Regions from separate parts of the Homo sapiens genome. Here region 2 is linked to region 1. The links come from fine-mapping of genetic effects on gene expression. A gene starts in region 1. The other region holds a variant in brackets. All regions are shown on one strand. Distances are from middle to middle.

Region 1 (8,325 bases):
TGTAATCCCAGCACTTTGGGAGGCCGAGGTGGGCGGGTCACCTGAGGTCAGGAGTTCAAGACCAGCCTGGCCAACACAGCAAAACACTGTCTCTACTAAAAATACGAAAATTAGTTGGGTGTGGTGGCACACGCCTGTAATCCCAGTTACTGGGGAGGCTGAGGCAGGAGAATTGCTTGAGGTTGCAGTGAGCCAAGATCAGGCCATTGCACTCCATCCTGGGCAACAAGAGTGAAACTCTGTCTCAAAAAAAAAGTTAAATTCTTGACCAATTTTTTTTTCTTTCTTTCTTTTTTTTTTTTTTTTTTGAGACAGAGTCTCGCTCTGTCGCCCAGGCTGGAGTGCAGTGGCATCATGTTGGCTCACTGCAAGCTCCACCTCCTGGGTTCACGCCATTCTCCTGCCTCAGCCTCTGAGTAGCTGGGACTACAGGCGCCGGCCAACACACCCGGCTAATTTTTTGTATTTTTAGTAGAGACGGAGTTTCACCATGTTAGCCAGGGTGGTCACGATCTCCTGACCTCGTGATCCGCCCATCTTAGCCTCCCAAAGTGCTGGGATTACAGGCGTGAGCCACCGTGCCCGGCAACTAAATTCTTGACCTATTTTAAAAATTTTGCAATATAGGCCGGGTGCGGTGGTTCACGACTGTAATCTCAGCACTTTGGGAGGCCGAGGTGGGTGGATCATGAGGTCAGGAGATCGAGACCATCCTGGCTAACACGGTGAAACCCCGTCTCTACTAAAAATACAAAAAATTAGCTGGGCATGGTGGCGGGCGCCTGTAGTCCCAGCTACTCGGGAGGCTGAGGCGGGAGAATGGCGTGAATCCGGGAGGCGGAGCTTGCAGTGAGCCGAGATCGCGCCACTGTACTCCAGCCTGGGTGACAGAGCGAGACTCCGTCTCAAAAAAAAAAAAAGTGCAATATACATTTTTTCAAATTTGGTGTATTAAATGAAACATAAATATTTTTTAATTGCTGCATTTCAAATTAGCATGATTCCATTTCAAATAAAATGCCACTGTGCTACTCAGGAATTTACCACCAAAAGAGGAAATGCAGATATTAGACAGCTTTATTGAGGTATAATTTACATACCATAAAACCCACAGGTTGTAAGTTTACATTTTAATGATTTTAATAAACTTGAGGAGTTGTGCAACCCTTACCACAGTCCAATTTTAGAATCACCCCGCAAAGGCAAGGGAGTGGTGCCTGGGTTTTCTGACAAAATCTATACTCAGACCAACATGTCCCCTGCCCCAGCCCAACCAGTTCCAGGCTAGAGCAGTGGAAAGGCCAGTTAGCTATCCAACCACCGTCTACCCCTACGCTTCATCCTGGCTCCTGGATTCCACACCATTTTGTGCTGTGGTAGCTGCTCTGAGCTGGGGGCAGGCCTTGTTTTCTGGAGTTCTGGACTTTGACCTGAGCTAGTCCCAGCATGCAGAAACCTTCCATCCCATCTCCTGTCTACTTCTACCCTGGAGTGGAGGTTATTTCCTGCCTCTCTAACTCTCCGCTCCCATCAGGTGTACCAAAGTGGGGCTCTCAATTGCTTTTCAGTGGCACTTTGGGGTTTCCTGTCTGATTCTGTTGGGTATTTCCCATGGGAGTGGAGTTCAAACTTTCAGAAGAAACAACTCTTCTGCCTTCTCCACGGGGTCTGCCTTTGCAGACTGCTCATTCAGTCCCTTTCTATCTTGACCTGAAAGGTTGGCTGGGGTCCTCACAGTGGCACTGGGGGACTTGCTCTCTGCGAAGTCTCCTTCAGCTTGAAGACTTTCCCCTTTTCTCCTGGATTTTTGTCTGCTTTGTCCACAGGTGCATTACAAGGCCCCAGGACAATGCCCGCCTGTAGTAGCCATTCATTAAATATGTTGAATACCTGGAATTGGAGTGCCACAAGGAAGCTGTCTAGAGGGGTAAGGGGTGCTGTCAATTCCTTCCCATCTTCGGAGCTGGGAAGCCCAGTCCTGTTGGATCTAGTATAAGCTTCTTACAGATGTTTGGGTCTCCTTTCTCTGAGGCGCCCTGGTTCACTGGGCCAACTCAGGAGTTGGTCTGCCCTTCCTCAGAAATCCCTTCAAGTTTTTCTGTTCCTCTTCCTAGACTGGTGCTTTTTGGCTGGGTCAGTTTCCCAAATGGGCCTGTAGCTGCTCTGAGCTGGGTCATCCAGCCGTTTAGCAGCTGCTTCAACCACTGCTAGGCTGCCTTTTGGAGACAAGAGCTCCCAGCTCCTCCTTCTGGCCTAGCTTCCCATCAAATGGGGCCCTGGGTCCTCTCCTCACAAGGATTTTGGGCTCCTCCGCAGTTTTGTAGCCAGCCTGGATTCTGGCCTTCTGCAGCCTGCTCCCTCCCTTCCCTTCCGCCCCTGGGAAGAGCGACCCCCACCACTCTCGGAGACTGCACTGCCCGCCTGTCAGAGTGGGCACTCAGGTGACACTGCTGTGGTCGTCCCCTTCCTCCGTGATCCATTCCGGAGGGGGTCATTCTTAGTCTAGGCCTGCAGGCCCGGAGCTCCAGCCATGGTCTCCGCCTGTCCCTGACCGGCGGTCTGGGAGGCAGCAGGTAGGGGATCCCGGGCAGGCGGACCAGGCCTGGGTGGGGGGCGAGCAGGAGGCGCGGGACAGCACCTGGGGGTCCCAGCTGATGAAGGGTCGGGGTGGGCAGCGGTTTGGGGGCCAGACGGATCCGCGGTGTGGGCGCGCCGGGGTGTTGATGGAGGAGGGGCCGAGGTGCTGAGGGCGGGGTCGGGCTGGGGTCGGGGCTGAGGGCGGAGTCGGGTGGGGCGGAGTCAGAGCTGAGGTGAGCCTGAGGGCGGAGTCGGGGCGGGCTGAGGTGGGCCTGTGGGCGGAGTCGGGGCGGTGTGCTGAGGTGGGCCTGAGGGCGGAGTCGAGGTCGGGCTGAAGGCGGAGTCGGGGAGGGCTGAGGTGGGCCTGAAGGCAGAGTCGAGGTCGGAGCTGGGGACGGAGTCGAGTTCGGGCTGAGGGCGGAGTCGGGGCGGGCTGAGGTGGTCCTGTGGGCGGAGTCGAGGTCGGGCTGAGGGCAGAGTCGGGTCGGAGTCGGGGCGCGCTGAGGTGGGCCTGGGGGCGGAGTCGAGGTCGGAGCTGAGGGCGGAGTCGGGGGCGGGGACGTAGGCGGAACCCGGGTCGGGCTGAGGTGGGCCCGAGGGTTGGGCTGGGGGCGGAGTGGGTGCCAGCCTGAGGGCGGAGCCGGGGGCGGGCGGGGGCGGGCTGGGGCGGGCCTACAGGCCAGACTGGTGTGGCACGGAGCTGAGGACCGGCCGGAGCTTTGCGGAGGGCCCGGCTTGGCGGGTCCGGGGGGGAGCCGAACCCGCGGGGCACCGGGTCCGGGCGGGGCCGAGCCGGGCCGGGGCGGGAGCCAGCCGGGGTGGGGCGGGGCCGAGGCCGAGGCAGGCGGTCGGCAGTGCTGGGGGTTCAGGTGTTGCGGCGGCTCCACGTAGCCAGGCGGCCCGTGGGCTGGAGCGGGCGGAGCTCGGCCCGCGGCTTGCGTGAGCTCAGGCCGGTCCCAGCGTCCAGAGCGCCGGCCCTTCGGCTTCTTCTAGGCCATGGCAGGGCCGGGCCCAGGCCCGGGGGACCCGGACGAGCAGTACGATTTCCTGTTCAAGCTGGTGCTGGTGGGCGACGCAAGCGTGGGCAAGACGTGCGTGGTGCAGCGCTTCAAGACCGGCGCCTTCTCGGAGCGCCAGGGAAGCACCATCGGCGTCGACTTCACCATGAAGACGCTGGAGATCCAGGGCAAGCGGGTCAAGGTGGGAGGCCGGCCAGGGCCCCTGGAAGGCGCTCCCTCGGAGGGTGGGGCGGGGGCAGCGGAGCCCCTGGCCGCGGCGAGCGCACCCCGCGTCCATCTGAAGTTTCCTTTGGCTTCCCCTTTTTCCTTCCTCGGGTCGGAGCAGGCCTGGGCCCCGGGGTCTGGGCCGGGTTCAAGTCCTCAAAGCGCCGGCCGTGGGTTGCTGGGGGGGGGGGGGGCGAGGGAGTGTGGAGGAGGCGGCCCTGCCCTCCGGAGCTCACACCCTAGGAGGGGACTGTGCTCCAAAATAACTTTAGCCATTGGAAGGCAGGGGGTTAGACTCCCCTGTTCCAGGTACTAGCGGAGCGCCTTGGAGTGCGGAGATCAGACCCCCCACCTCCATCCACCGCGATGGCAGCCCCCAGCTCAGCCCACCGGCGGGGCACTCAGCCAGAGAACTGCATCCCCACCCCAGGACTAGGAGCGATCAGGAAGTAGTTGCTTTTAGGACCAGAGGGCCAAAACTTTTTGTCAGAATTTCCGGCCTGGCCACGCCTCCCTGCAGTCTCTTTGTGGACCTGGTGGTGGAACTTTACTCGACTAGGGCCAGCCCCGGTTCCCTCCCCCAGCTGGAGTTTGATAGAAACTGAAAACTTCACAGATACCGGAAGGTGGGGGAGAGAACCAAGCTTTGGCAATGGCTCCGAATAAAAACAGCAGGATGTGGTTGCCACAATGTCCTGGCAGTGGTTTGATAAATATTTGTGATGAATGAAATCAGAGTTTCTTAACCTAGGTGTTAGTACTCCCTAATCAACCAGGAGATCCTGGGCTGAAGGCACTCAGTAACTTTTCTGAACCGCACTGTACAGAAATCTTTGCTTGCTTTCATGGTTTCGAGCCCCCATGATCTTCAGGACACCCTCAGGGCACAGGGCTGGGACGATCTCTGCCAGGGAGATGGGAGTCACTGGAGCCTTGCTGCTGCTGGGCTCTGCCTCTCCGGGTGGCTCTAGGCCTGCTCCTTGTTGCCTTTGGCTAGGATATGTAGCTCTTTGTCTTTGTTTCTATAAAATTGGGATAATTTCTGGGTGTTGCCTCCCTCCTGCCCCAAGGTGGAGAAAAAAGTAAGTCAACAGTCTTTATGTGTCCACAGTGCCTCTCAGTAGATGTGACGGGGAAGCAGAAACTCCTGCCTGAGGGGTTTTATTATTATTATATTTTAATCGTCTTCTGGGGTCTGTGTTTTGGTCTCCGTGGATGGAAAAGAGCAAGGTGCAGAAGGCAGCTTTGAGTCACTCGGGACCACCCTTTTGGAGCAGGTAGCCAGGGAAGGGCTGGAGTGGGTGGAGTGTCCGTTATTGAGTGTGCCCAGTGATGATGCCAGCAGCTGCAGGGAAATGGGAGTGTGAAAATACAGGCTAAAGAGCAGTGGTGTCCTCCTCATGTGCTATCGGTCTGTGTCTGGAGTGTCTGTGGTGGCCCAGTGCTGACGGTGGTCAGGGAGGGGGCAGGGTTCCTGTTTACCTGTTGAGATAACAGACTGTGTCCCAGCAGAGCTCCTGGTTTACTGCGCACGGGTTATGCAATGCAGGGCCAGGCAGTTCGTTATTTTCTTTCCTTATGGTTGCCTCCAGATTGTCCTTCCTAGGAAGCAGCCCGGGGCCCAGGGAGCAGAAGAGCTGTGTAGCTGTGGTAAACACCTCTCCAAGTTATAGCCGCTGACCTTCTTGAGAGGCTGTTGGGAATCAGCTGGGTTACAGGTGCATTCTCTGCTGACTGGAGGGAATTCTTACCCCCGCTCACACAGGATGGAGCCTGGGCACACAGCTAAGAAGTGATAGAGGTGGGAATATTTTTCCCAGTTTTTCTGACTCCAAAGCAGATTTCTCCCCCATAGTGGACAGCTTTTCAGAATCCCGTTGTCTGTGGTGGGGAAGCCTCTGGCAATTGTTTACCACCTCATTTTGCCGGCAGGAAAACCTGAAGTCTAACTCACTGCAGAGGCTCCAAATTAAAGCTGGGCAGCCGTGAACTTGAGGGAACACTGTCCTTCGAGTCAGGCTTCCTGGGGTCCGCTGCCGCAGCAGGAGCAAGCCATTTTCCCTCCTCCATCTGTAAAGTGCCTCTGAGTAGTCTTTTGGCAATGTGATTTTAAGTCAAGTTTTTTGAGGTCTAATTTACACACGGTAAACCTTCACCACTTGAGGTGTTACAGGTCTATGAACTTCTCAAACTTACACAGACAAGCAGCCACATCACTATCAAGATGGAGAATTTTTCCACCAACCCAGAAAGTTCTTTTGTTCTTCTGTAGTCAGTTCCTTTCACCTCATCCTGTGGCAACCCCCGATCTGTTTTTTGTCTCTGTAGTTTCAGCAGTGTGATTTTAACTGAAAGCCTTGATGAACCAGAGCTTATTGTTGTTTTTTCTGTGGAAAGCAAGTGCACATCAGGGATTCAGTGTAAAACCTTTCCAGGGGCCGGGTGCAGTGGCTCATGCCTGCAATCCCAGCACTTTGGGAGGCCGAGGCAGGAAGATTGCTGGATGTCAAGAGTTCGAGATGAGCCTGGCCAGCATAGTGAGACGTGGTATCTATTTAGAATAAAATAAAATAAACCTTCTCAGGGCCTGTCTTGGGAAGCCCGAGATGCTTGTCCAGCAAGCATCCAGTCTTATATCCTAAAGCTTTCCCTGTGATTCTTTACAATGATGCTGGGTTTTATTAGAGCTTCAGGAAGCTTAGAGATGGATCACCTGGTGGTTTTCTAGCTCCTGTGAGCTTGGAGGTACTGAAAGGTAAGGAGAAAAGCCAAGAGGTCAGAGAGAGGGTCAGAAGGGCTTTAACTAGCTTCCCAACCAGTCAGAGCAATACCTTTATCTAGTTGTAGGTTGAAATTCTTGTTATTTGACTAAAGAATTCTCCTGCTAAAAAAACCGAAACATTTGAGAATCACAGATTTAATCAAATTACTTTATTTCTGTAGCCACTTCCCATTACAACCAGAATAACCTCCAAACACCTTCCCCAAAGAGATGGACCTCTGGAAGGAGACAAAGTTGGAGAGGCAGACAGAGGCCCATCTCTACCCTTCACTGCCTGCTCTCCAGCTTCACTAGCCCTTCAACATGGTGGGCTTACCCCTGCCTCAGGACCTTTGCATCTCTTCCCGTGCCCATCATACTCTGCCTCTAGATCCCCACGTAACTGCTACTTCATCATTCAGGTCCCAACGCAAATGCCACATCTTCAGAGAGGCCTTGCCTGATCTCCCAGGTCCTCTATTCTGTAACTCTATTGTATCTGGTCATAACACTTACCACAGCTTCAAATTAACTGTTTTTTTCTGTCTGCCCCTATAGAAGGTAAGCTCCTTGAAGACACAGGGATCCAGTGGGCCAGTGTCAAACACATGGTGTCCAATATGTGCCTGTTAATTGGTTCCTTTATAGAGAGAAAGCTGAGGCCAAGGTCACTTACAACTCTGTGGCAAAACCAAGGGTTTGGCTGGCTCCTAAGCCCAGTCTTCATTTTTACTTGACCACCCTTCTGATTTGCTCTGAGTTCATAAAGATGACCGTGAGATTCTGAAAGTGAATGGATCTAATAAAAATGCAGTTGTGGCCATTGCATTCACTGAGAGAAGAATGTGGAATGGGGCATTTTAGAAAGATTGGGGTTGACAGTTAAAGAGTTTTAGGGTGTTTGGTTTATTATTAACCAAAACGTGTAGATATACCCAAACGGCTCAGAGACACTGCTGTACGAGTCAGTAAGGCTTTGTATATGGTGATCATTTCCAGTGTTCTTGTGGATGCATTTGACTGTAGCTATGAGAACTGGACTTATAAAGTGAATCTGAGTGCTGCTTATCTTGCATACTGTGGAGTCTCTGACAGAGAGCACTGGACTAGGAGTCTGAAGTTCTGAGTCTTGCTTCAACCCTGCCACAGACTTGGGCAATTCATTTTTTTTCTCCTTGGAGCCTCAGGCTTCCTCATCTGTGAAATGGGACTAATGGTCTTTGCTCTGCCTCTTTCTTAGGGTTGTCAGAAAACTTTGAACATGCTTAAAATAAAGTTTCCATGACTTACTTTTGAATAGATAAACCATTCACATGGTTCAAATTTCAAAATTTTAAAAACTTCAAAGGGTATATATAGTGAAAAGTCTCCCTTCCGTGTTTGTCCCGTAAGCCACCCAGTGTCCTCTAAGAAGAAGCCATCAGTGTTACTCATTTCTTATTTAAAAACAAGGATTTATAAATATATATTTTTTTATTGCTGCAGTTACTGTTTTCCTCCCTAGATGAGACAGATTAGGTCTGAATTTGCCCCTCCCCCACCCCTCCCTCCTCCCCACCTCAGTGTCCTCAGGAAATCTCAGCTGGCTCTAAATCCTTAAAACATTCTGAAGCTCCTCTACTCACTCTTATCTGGGACAACACAAAGGCCTGTTATGTAAACTCGTTTTTGCAGATCACTAGGCACACCGGCCTCAAGTCCAGCGCAGAGGTCAGCCTTATGGAACTGTACCCCTCTATTCAGCTCTCTCTCAGGCTCACTGTC
Region 2 (8,325 bases), 50 kb after region 1:
AACTAAGACATAATGCCATTTGTGGGGGCAGGGGGGACTTGGAAACAACCTAGATATCCCAGAAAAGGAGTGACATAGAAATGATCTTCATGAAGGATTTGATTGAAGTAGTGATTGGAATTCTACTATTGATTGGAAAATGCCAGTAAGTGAAATAAGCTGAATAGCTGTTTATCATTGCAATTTCACACCCAAACTTAAATGTTCCTCAATAAAAGATGAATTAATAAAAATAAAATGAATGAATACAATAAAATTAAAAATGACTAAGTAGGCCAGGCATGGTGGCTCACGCTTGTAATCACAGCACTTTGGGAAGCCAAGGTGGGTGGATCACTTGAGCTCAGGAGTCCGAGACCAGCCTGGCCAACATGGCAAAATCCTGTCTCTACAAAAATATATTAGCCAGGTATGGTAGCGTGCTCCTGTAGTCCCAGCTTCTCAGGGAGGCTGAGATGGGAGGTTAGCTTGAGCCCAGAAGGTCGAGGTTGCAGTGAGCTGAGATCGCACCACTGCCTCTCAGCCTGGGAGACAGAGTGAGACTCAGTCTCAAAAAAAAAAATTGACTAAGTAGAAACAGATGAACCATGAAAATATGTTCTCAATTACTCTCATAAATAAAATAATCGTAAATATATATTTAAATATATGGGTGTGTATATACACACGTACCCACCCACATATGTATATATACACACACATTTTGGGGAGAAAGCCTGGAAGGATATTCAGTCAAAGTTAGGAAGAAATCTGTCTCTGGAGGGGGCTGGATTTCAATTTCAGGCCTTTTATTATTATTATTATTTTTTTTTTTTTTTTTTTTGAGACGGAGTCTCTCTCTGTCACCCAGGCTGGAGTGCAGTGGCGCCACCTCGGCTCACTGCAAACTCCGCCTCCCGGGTTCACGCCATTCTCCTGCCTCAGCCTCCCGAGTAGCTAGGACTACAGGCGCCCGCCACCACGCCAGGCTAATTTTGTTTATTTTTAGTAGAGACAGGGTTTCACCATGTTAGCCAGGATGGTCTCGATCTCCTGACCTCGTGATCTGCCTGTCTCAGCCTCCCAAAGTGTTGGGATTACATGAGTGAGCCACCGCGCATGGCCTAGGCCTTTTATTATTATTTTTCATGTCTGGTAGGTAATGTGCTGACATCATAACAAGGTTTGAGAAAAGAAGTTCTCACTCACACAAGAATGAGAAAAGCCAATCATCACACTTATAAACTACAAAAGGCTCCTAATTTTTTTGCAGTTTTAGAGAAAAATTTTTGGTTATGATCATGAATTAGTTATATATAGCCAGGAAAATCAATAAAGCTATTTCCATTTTTTAAAGAAGGGAAAAAGTTGGGCTAGATAATTTGTGTGGTTATGATCTCAACTATATACAACTGTTCGGAGAAGGACACCAGAAGGAAATACCGCAATGGCGAGCCCCATTGTTCCCTCCGTGACTTCACGCTGGTGTGTTTACTTTCTAGGAATGTATCTTTTCCAGAGGTAGAAAAGAGAAAAGCTGGGATGCTTAGACTAACTGTGTGTTAATAGTGACTGTCTTTGGCTAAAGGAGCTTACAGAGATTGCTGTATTACTTAAAACAAAATTATTACTATGTATTGTGGTAAAACATACATGGCATGGGCTGGGCATGGTGGCTCAAGCCTGTAATCCCAGCACTTTGGGAGACAAAGGCGGGTGGATCACTTGAGGTCAGGAGTTCAAGACCAGCCTCGTCAATATGGCAAAACCCCATCTCTACTAAAAAAATCCAAAAATTAGCTGGGCAAGGTGGCGCATGCCTGTAATCCCAGCTACTCAGGGGGCAGAAGAATCGCTTGAACCCAGGACGCAGAGGCTGCAGTGAGCCAAGATCGGCCTGGGCGGCAAAGCGAAACCCTGTCTCAAGAATAAACCCCCAAAACAAACCATACATGGCATAGTATTTATGAGAGAACATAGTATTTTGAGAGAAGCACACCTCACTCACACAAGAGCAAGAAAAGCCAATCATCACACTTTTAAACTACAAAAGACTCCTAATTTTCCTAATTTTAAGCATCCATAAAATCCGTAAAGTGGAGAGTGCAGGGACCTTAAGCACATTCACACTGCTGTGCCACCATGAACACCATCCATCTCAGAATGCTTCCGTCTTCCCAAACTGAAACTCTGTCCCCACCAAACTCCCCGTGTGCCCTCTCCTCCAGCCTTGGTGGCCACCACCCACTTTCTGTCTTGGAATGTGACCACTCTAGGGCCCCCAGGCCATATTGGTTCCTCTTCTGGGCATGCTCATAAACTTCTGTCTTGGTGCAACGAAGTTGGGCAAGAGCTGAAGGAGGAGGCTCGGTCCTGACCGAGAGCCTTGCAGGGGTAAAACAGCACCTGCACAGCTGGGTAGGGGTCCAGGCAGTGCTGACCCAGTGTCCATGGGACTCCAGGAAAGAAAGCAGGGCTTTGCCCCCTGCCTAGGAGACGACAGGAGATTTTAACTAAATACATTTTGTAGGTTGGGCGCGGTGGCTCACGCCTGTAATCCCAGCACTTTGGGAGGCCGAGGCAGGTGGATCACGAGGTCAGGAGATCGAGACCATCCTGGCTAACATGGTGAAACCGCGTCTCTACTAAATATACAAAAAATTAGACGGGCGTTGTGGCACATGCCTATAATCCCAGCTACTCGGGAGGCTGAGGCAGAAGAATGGCGTGAACCCAGGAGGCGGAGCTTGCAGTGAGCCGAGATCAAACCACTGCACTCCAGCCTGAGCGACAGAGCGAGACTCCGACTCAAAAAAAAAAAATAAAAATAAATAAATACATACATTTTATGATCATTTTCCTTCCCTGTTATTATAACATGGGAAATCCACAGGGATTTTCTATTTTGCCACCGTTGTATCGGTCTTCTCTTTTCCTTCGGTCTAGGGCAAGCTTGTCCAACATGTGCCCCAGGATGGCTTTGAATGCTGCCCAACACAAATTTGTAAACGTTCTTAAAACATTATGAGGATTTTTGCAATTTTTTTTTAGCTCATCAGCCATCATTAGTGCTAGTGTATTTTTTTTTTCTGTTTATGGTGTGAGATATAAATTAAATTTTATTTTTTCCAACTTGAAAGTCAATTGTATACCTGCCTTTTATTGTATCCTATTTTTAAATTACAATTTCTTTCTTTCTTTTTTTCTTTTTTAGAGACAATCATTCTATCACTCAGGCTGGAGTGCAGTGCTGTGATCATAGCTCACTGCAGCCTCCACCTTTTGGGCTCAAGTGATCCTTCCATCTCAGCTTCTCAAGTAACTGGCACTACAAGTGTGTGCCACCATACCCAGCTAATTTTCTTATTTTTATTTTTTGTAGAGATGGGGTCTTGCTATGTTGCCCAGGCTGGCCTTAAACTCCAGGGCTCAAGCGATCCTCCCTCTTTGGCTCCCCAAAGTGGTGGGATTACAGGCATGAGCCACCACACCCAGCTAAAATTATAATTTCTAATTGTCTAAAAATGCAATAGATTTTTGTGCATCGATCTAATATTAAGTAACATTTTCAAAATCCCCTACTAATTAGTGTTGGTGTATTTTATGTGTGGCCCAAGACAATTCTTCTTCCAATGTGGCGCAGGGAAGCTAAAAGATTGGACACCCCTGGTCTAGCGTAAAATTCCAGAAAGGTTGGTTTCTAGAGCCCAAGTCTGCTCAGCCTGCACCTGCCTGAGACCCCAGACGAGGGGCAGTAGGCCAGCAGGGGTCTGCCCCAAGATCCCTTCCCAAAGGTCAGTGTCTGTGTTGGGGGGTGAGGGTATTGTCAAAAAATAAACCCCCACCAGCTGCTGCCTCCCGTTTGTTTGCTTGGTTTTTACTGCTCCTTGTTGAGCAGGGCTAACTCACAGGCAGAGCGCCCAGAATCGCTGCGCCTATAGCTTTTGAGAAGCCGTGTCTGGTGGAGGACACATTCTGGTCCACTCCAGCGGGCGCCACGCGGTGGTGTCTTAATCACTAAGAAGGTCAAATCCATAGCCTATTTGTCATCCTAGCTTGTTTCCAAGAATCCCTAAAGTTTAAGAATCAAAGACCCCAGGTGGGTGAATAAGGAGGAAGGTAGGGGGCAGAGGCAGAGCACTTGGCCTCAAAGCAGCTGTATTCATCTGAGAACGCCACGCGGCCATCAGGCATCCTTTCTGTGAATTTTGTTTCCATGCTTAATACAGATTTTTTTGGGTTGACCAGCAGTTCCTAAGTTGAGTGCCTGTGAGCAACCATGAGAAGAGGACTTACAAGAGTGGCATCGGGGCCAGACTGCTTGGCTCCAAATCTCACCTCTGCTATTTACCTTTCTGTGCCTCAGTTTCCCCATCTGTAAAATGGAGAGGAGGAAGGTGAGGTGAGAAGGGTGTTCACTGCCCACACCAAGAGGTAGCTCTGAAGCCGGCCCAACTGCCCCACAGAACTGATGTTCATGGTTTCTTTGAATAAACATAGAAATTGATCCTCCCAGTCTTAAAACTTGAGAAAGTTACATTTGTCTTATTTGAGTTCCTCTCTTAGGAAAGCAACTATCAGGCCTCCCAGATAGTGTCAAGGAGTTGAAACTCACCACATCATCTGCACAATGAGAGGCTAGACCTCTCACCCATCATGAGTGCCTAACTGACCACCTGCTTCCTGTTGACCTCCCTAATTCCTGTTTTCCCACACATGGTTACGTTTCTTCTCTGTTATATTACCCCTAGTTTTAGTCCGTCAGGGAGATGGATTTGAGACTGATCTCCCATCTCTGACTACAGCACACAATTAAAGCCTTCTTCCCAGGCGATACTTGTTGTCTTATTGGCTTTCTGTGCAGTGAGCAGCGGGACCTAGACCTAGACCCTGGTGTTGCAGTAACAGTTCTGAGGTTTATACACCTTCCTAAGGGTGAGGGACTTGGTGCAGTGCTTGGTACTTAAATGTCCCCTGCATACGTGACCCCTTGGTGATCTTTTCCTCTCCACAGCTTGCTCCTCATCTGAACAACAAATTCAGAATTTCCCTAAACTAGCTATAAAGGAAAACATTAGAATTCATGACATGGAACGTGG[G/T]CACTCAAGCTGACACATGGTGGATGTGCAACAGATAGAAGGGCAGAGCTCACAGCGGGGAGGGCACAGGAGGTGGAAAAACCCACAGGAAGCTTACTCTGAGCCTTCAGGGACCCCGCCAGCAATATGTCCTTGACAGACATAACATTTTTAGTTACTAAAATAGAAGGAAACTTGATAAAACTGTGAGCACCCCATGCCAGCAGAGTGACCACGAGGCTGTTCCATGCTTTCAGGGATGGGGACGTTCTGAGCCCATGAGAAGTCCTCTGGGAATTCACCAGAAGGAAATAATTTGGGGAGGGTGGTTTGCTGGCTGGCGACAGTACTGTCTGTGAAGGCACGAAGAAAACAGGCCCACAGCCTGTGTCCGGAGTTCGTTCTTTCCAGTGGGTTCTTGGTCGTGCTGACTTCAAGAATGAAGCCACAGACCTTGGTGGTGAGTGTTAACAGCTCTTAAAGGTGGCACGGACCCAAAGAGGGAGCAGCAGCAAGATTTACTGTGAAGAGCAAAAGAACAAAGTTTGCAGTGTGGAAGGGGACCCGAGCAGGTTGTCACTGCTGACTGGGGTGGCCAGCTTTTTATTCCCTTATTTGTCCCTGCCCACATCCTGCTGATCGGTCCATTTTACAGAGTGCTGATTGGTCCATTTTACAGAGTGCTGATTGGTGTGTTTACATCCTTTAGCTAGACACAGAGCGCTGATTGGTGCATTTTTACAGAGTGCTGATTGGTGCATTTACAATCCTTTGTTTTTATGGGGTGCTGATTGGTGCATTTACAATCCTTTGTTTTTATGGGGTGCTGATTGGTGCATTTACAATCATTTAGCTAGACCCAGAGCGCTGATGGGTGCGTTTTTACAGAGTGCTGATTGGTGCATTTACAATCCTTTAGCTAGACAGAAAAGTTCTCCAAGTCCCCACTTGACCCAGGAAGTCCAGCTGGCTTCACTTCTCAAACCCACAAGAGGCTAGTGTAGGGTGGTGCCCATGAGCTGCCACAGAGCAAGGACACGAATTTGGGAAATACATATTGCATGTCCTCCTACAGAATGGCAAAACAGCAAAGTTTTAGAGCTTGTTGTGTATCAGAATTCAGACAATGCAAGCCTCAATGCCCAGCCATGGGCTTCTTAGTCTAGAGCAGTGGTTTTCAAACTTTTTGCTCTCAGGACCCATTCTTAAAAATTCTGGAGCACCATAGAGAGCTTTTTATGGGTTATATCTACCAATAGTTACAGTGTGTGAAAATAAGGGGAGACAGTTTAAACATACTTAATGTGTCACTTTGTTTACAATCATAATGATAAAGCTTAAGGATGTTAATGAAAATAAAATACTTTAATAAAAACAAAGCTGGGCATAGTGGTGTGTGCCTGTAGTCCCAGCTACTTCAGAGGCAGAGGTGAGAGGTGACAGCCTGCTGGCAGCCCTCACAGACCTCGCTCGCTCTGGGCGCCTCCTCGGCCTTGGTGCCCACTCTGGCCGCGCTTGAGGAGCCCTTCAGCCCGCCGCTACACTATGGGAGCCCCGGCCAGCCCCTTTCTGGGCTGGCCAAGGCCGGAGCCGGCTCCCTCAGCTTGCGGTGAGGTGTGGAGGGAGAGGCGGGGGCGGGAACCGGGGCTGCGCGCCGCGCTTGCCGGCCAGCGCAAGTTCCGGGTGGGCGTGGGCTCCGCGGCCCCGCTCTCGGAGCCGCGAGTCCGGAGCAGTGAGGGGCTTAGCACCTGGGCCAGCAGCTGCTGTGCTTGATTTCTCGCCGGGCCTTAACTGCCTCCCCGCAGGGCAGGGCCCAGGACCTGCAGCCCGCCATGCCTGAGCCTTCCCTCCTCAACCACTCCCCGCCGGCCCCAGTGGGCTCCTGCGCGGCCCCAGCCTCCCCGTCAAGGGCCGCCCCCTGCTCCAGGGCACCCAGTTCCCATTGACCACCCAAGGGCTGAGGAGTGCGGGCGCACGGCACGGGACTGGCAGGCAGCTCCACCTGGGCCCCCGTGCGGGATCCACTGGGTGAAGCCAGCTGGGCTCCTGAGTCTGGTGGGGACTTGGAGAATCTTTATGTTTAGCTAAGGGATTGTAAATACACCAATCAGCACTCTGTAGCTCAAGGTTTGTAAACACACCAGTCAGCACCCTGTGTCTAGCTCAGGGTTTGTGAATGCCCAATCGACACTCTGTATCTAGCTACTCTGGTGGTGACTTGGAGAACTTTTGTGTCCACACTCTATCTAGCTACTCTGGTGGGGACTTGGAGAACTTTTGTGTCTAGCTCAGGGATTGTAAACCCACCAATCAGCACCCTATCAAAACGGACCAATCAGCTCTCTGTAAAATGGACCAATCAGCAGGATGTGGGTGGGGCCAGATTAGAGAATAAAAGCAGGCTGCCCGAGCCAGCAGTGGCAAACTGGTTTGGTCCGCTTCCACGCTGTTGGAGGTTTGTTCTTTTGCTGTTTGCAATAAATCTTGCTGTTGTTTGCTCTTTGGAGCCACACTACCTTTATGAGCTGTAACACTCACCGCGAAGGTCTGCAGCTTCACTCCTGAGCCAAAGAGACCACGACCTCACCAGAAGGAAGAAACTCCGAACACATCCAAACATCAGAAGGAACAAACTCCAGACGTGCCGCCTTTAAGAACTGTAACACTCACTGCGAGGGTCCGCAGCTTCATTCTTGAAGTCAGTGAGACCAAGAACCCACCAATTCTGGAGACAAGAGGATTGCTTAAGCCCAGAAGTTTGAGTACAGCTTGGGAAACATAGTGAGACCCTGTCTCAAAAAGAATAGATATGTTCCAAAACAAAAGAGTGAGAAGTGTGCCATTCTATATTTTTTGCAAATCTTTTAAACGTCTGGCGTAATAGGAGGTAGCTGGATGCCGTGTCTGTGTCTGCAGACACACTGCTGTGATGTCACAAATCATGTGGCCTCTGGAAAATTCTCTTTTATTTCAAGAGGGATTTTAATTTCAGAAAACCACAGTGGAAAAGGCTGATAATGGCCTACAGTATGAACATAGTTTTGAATATGTGGACCTCTCTAAAAGAGTTTCAGGGAACCTCCTCTCCCCAGCGGTCTCTGGAGCTCTGCTTTGAGGACCAGTGCCCTAGAGAAATAGCCGCACAGGTGCATAGGGCTGCACACGGCAGCTTGTTTGTAAAGGAGAATGCTGGAGCAATTGCGCCAGAGGACACAGAGACCAAGAGAGACTACGCAGCAGCCACGGAGAGAGAAGGGCCTATGTGGCT

Evidence for each region. PIP is the estimated chance that this variant, and not a neighbour inherited with it, causes the effect.
Region 2: its variant is the best candidate, but not a certain one, in a credible set for the expression of RAB43 in whole blood (TOPMed, PIP 0.53).

Annotation. Positions count from the first base shown.
Region 1 is chr3:129,116,738-129,125,062 of GRCh38, reverse strand. RAB43 (RAB43, member RAS oncogene family) reads left to right here and starts at 3,259. Exons shown (of 3, transcript NM_198490.3): 1 at 3,259-3,777. The coding sequence starts at 3,574. All of the region lies in intron 11 of ISY1-RAB43 (ISY1-RAB43 readthrough), which reads left to right. RefSeq lists silencers at 3,030-3,249, 3,270-3,449 and an enhancer at 4,230-5,175.
Region 2 is chr3:129,067,006-129,075,330 of GRCh38, reverse strand. It overlaps LOC124906368 (small nucleolar RNA U13), which reads right to left and starts at 1,236; the gene lies at 1,129-1,236. The variant G/T (reference allele first, on the strand shown) is at 5,079.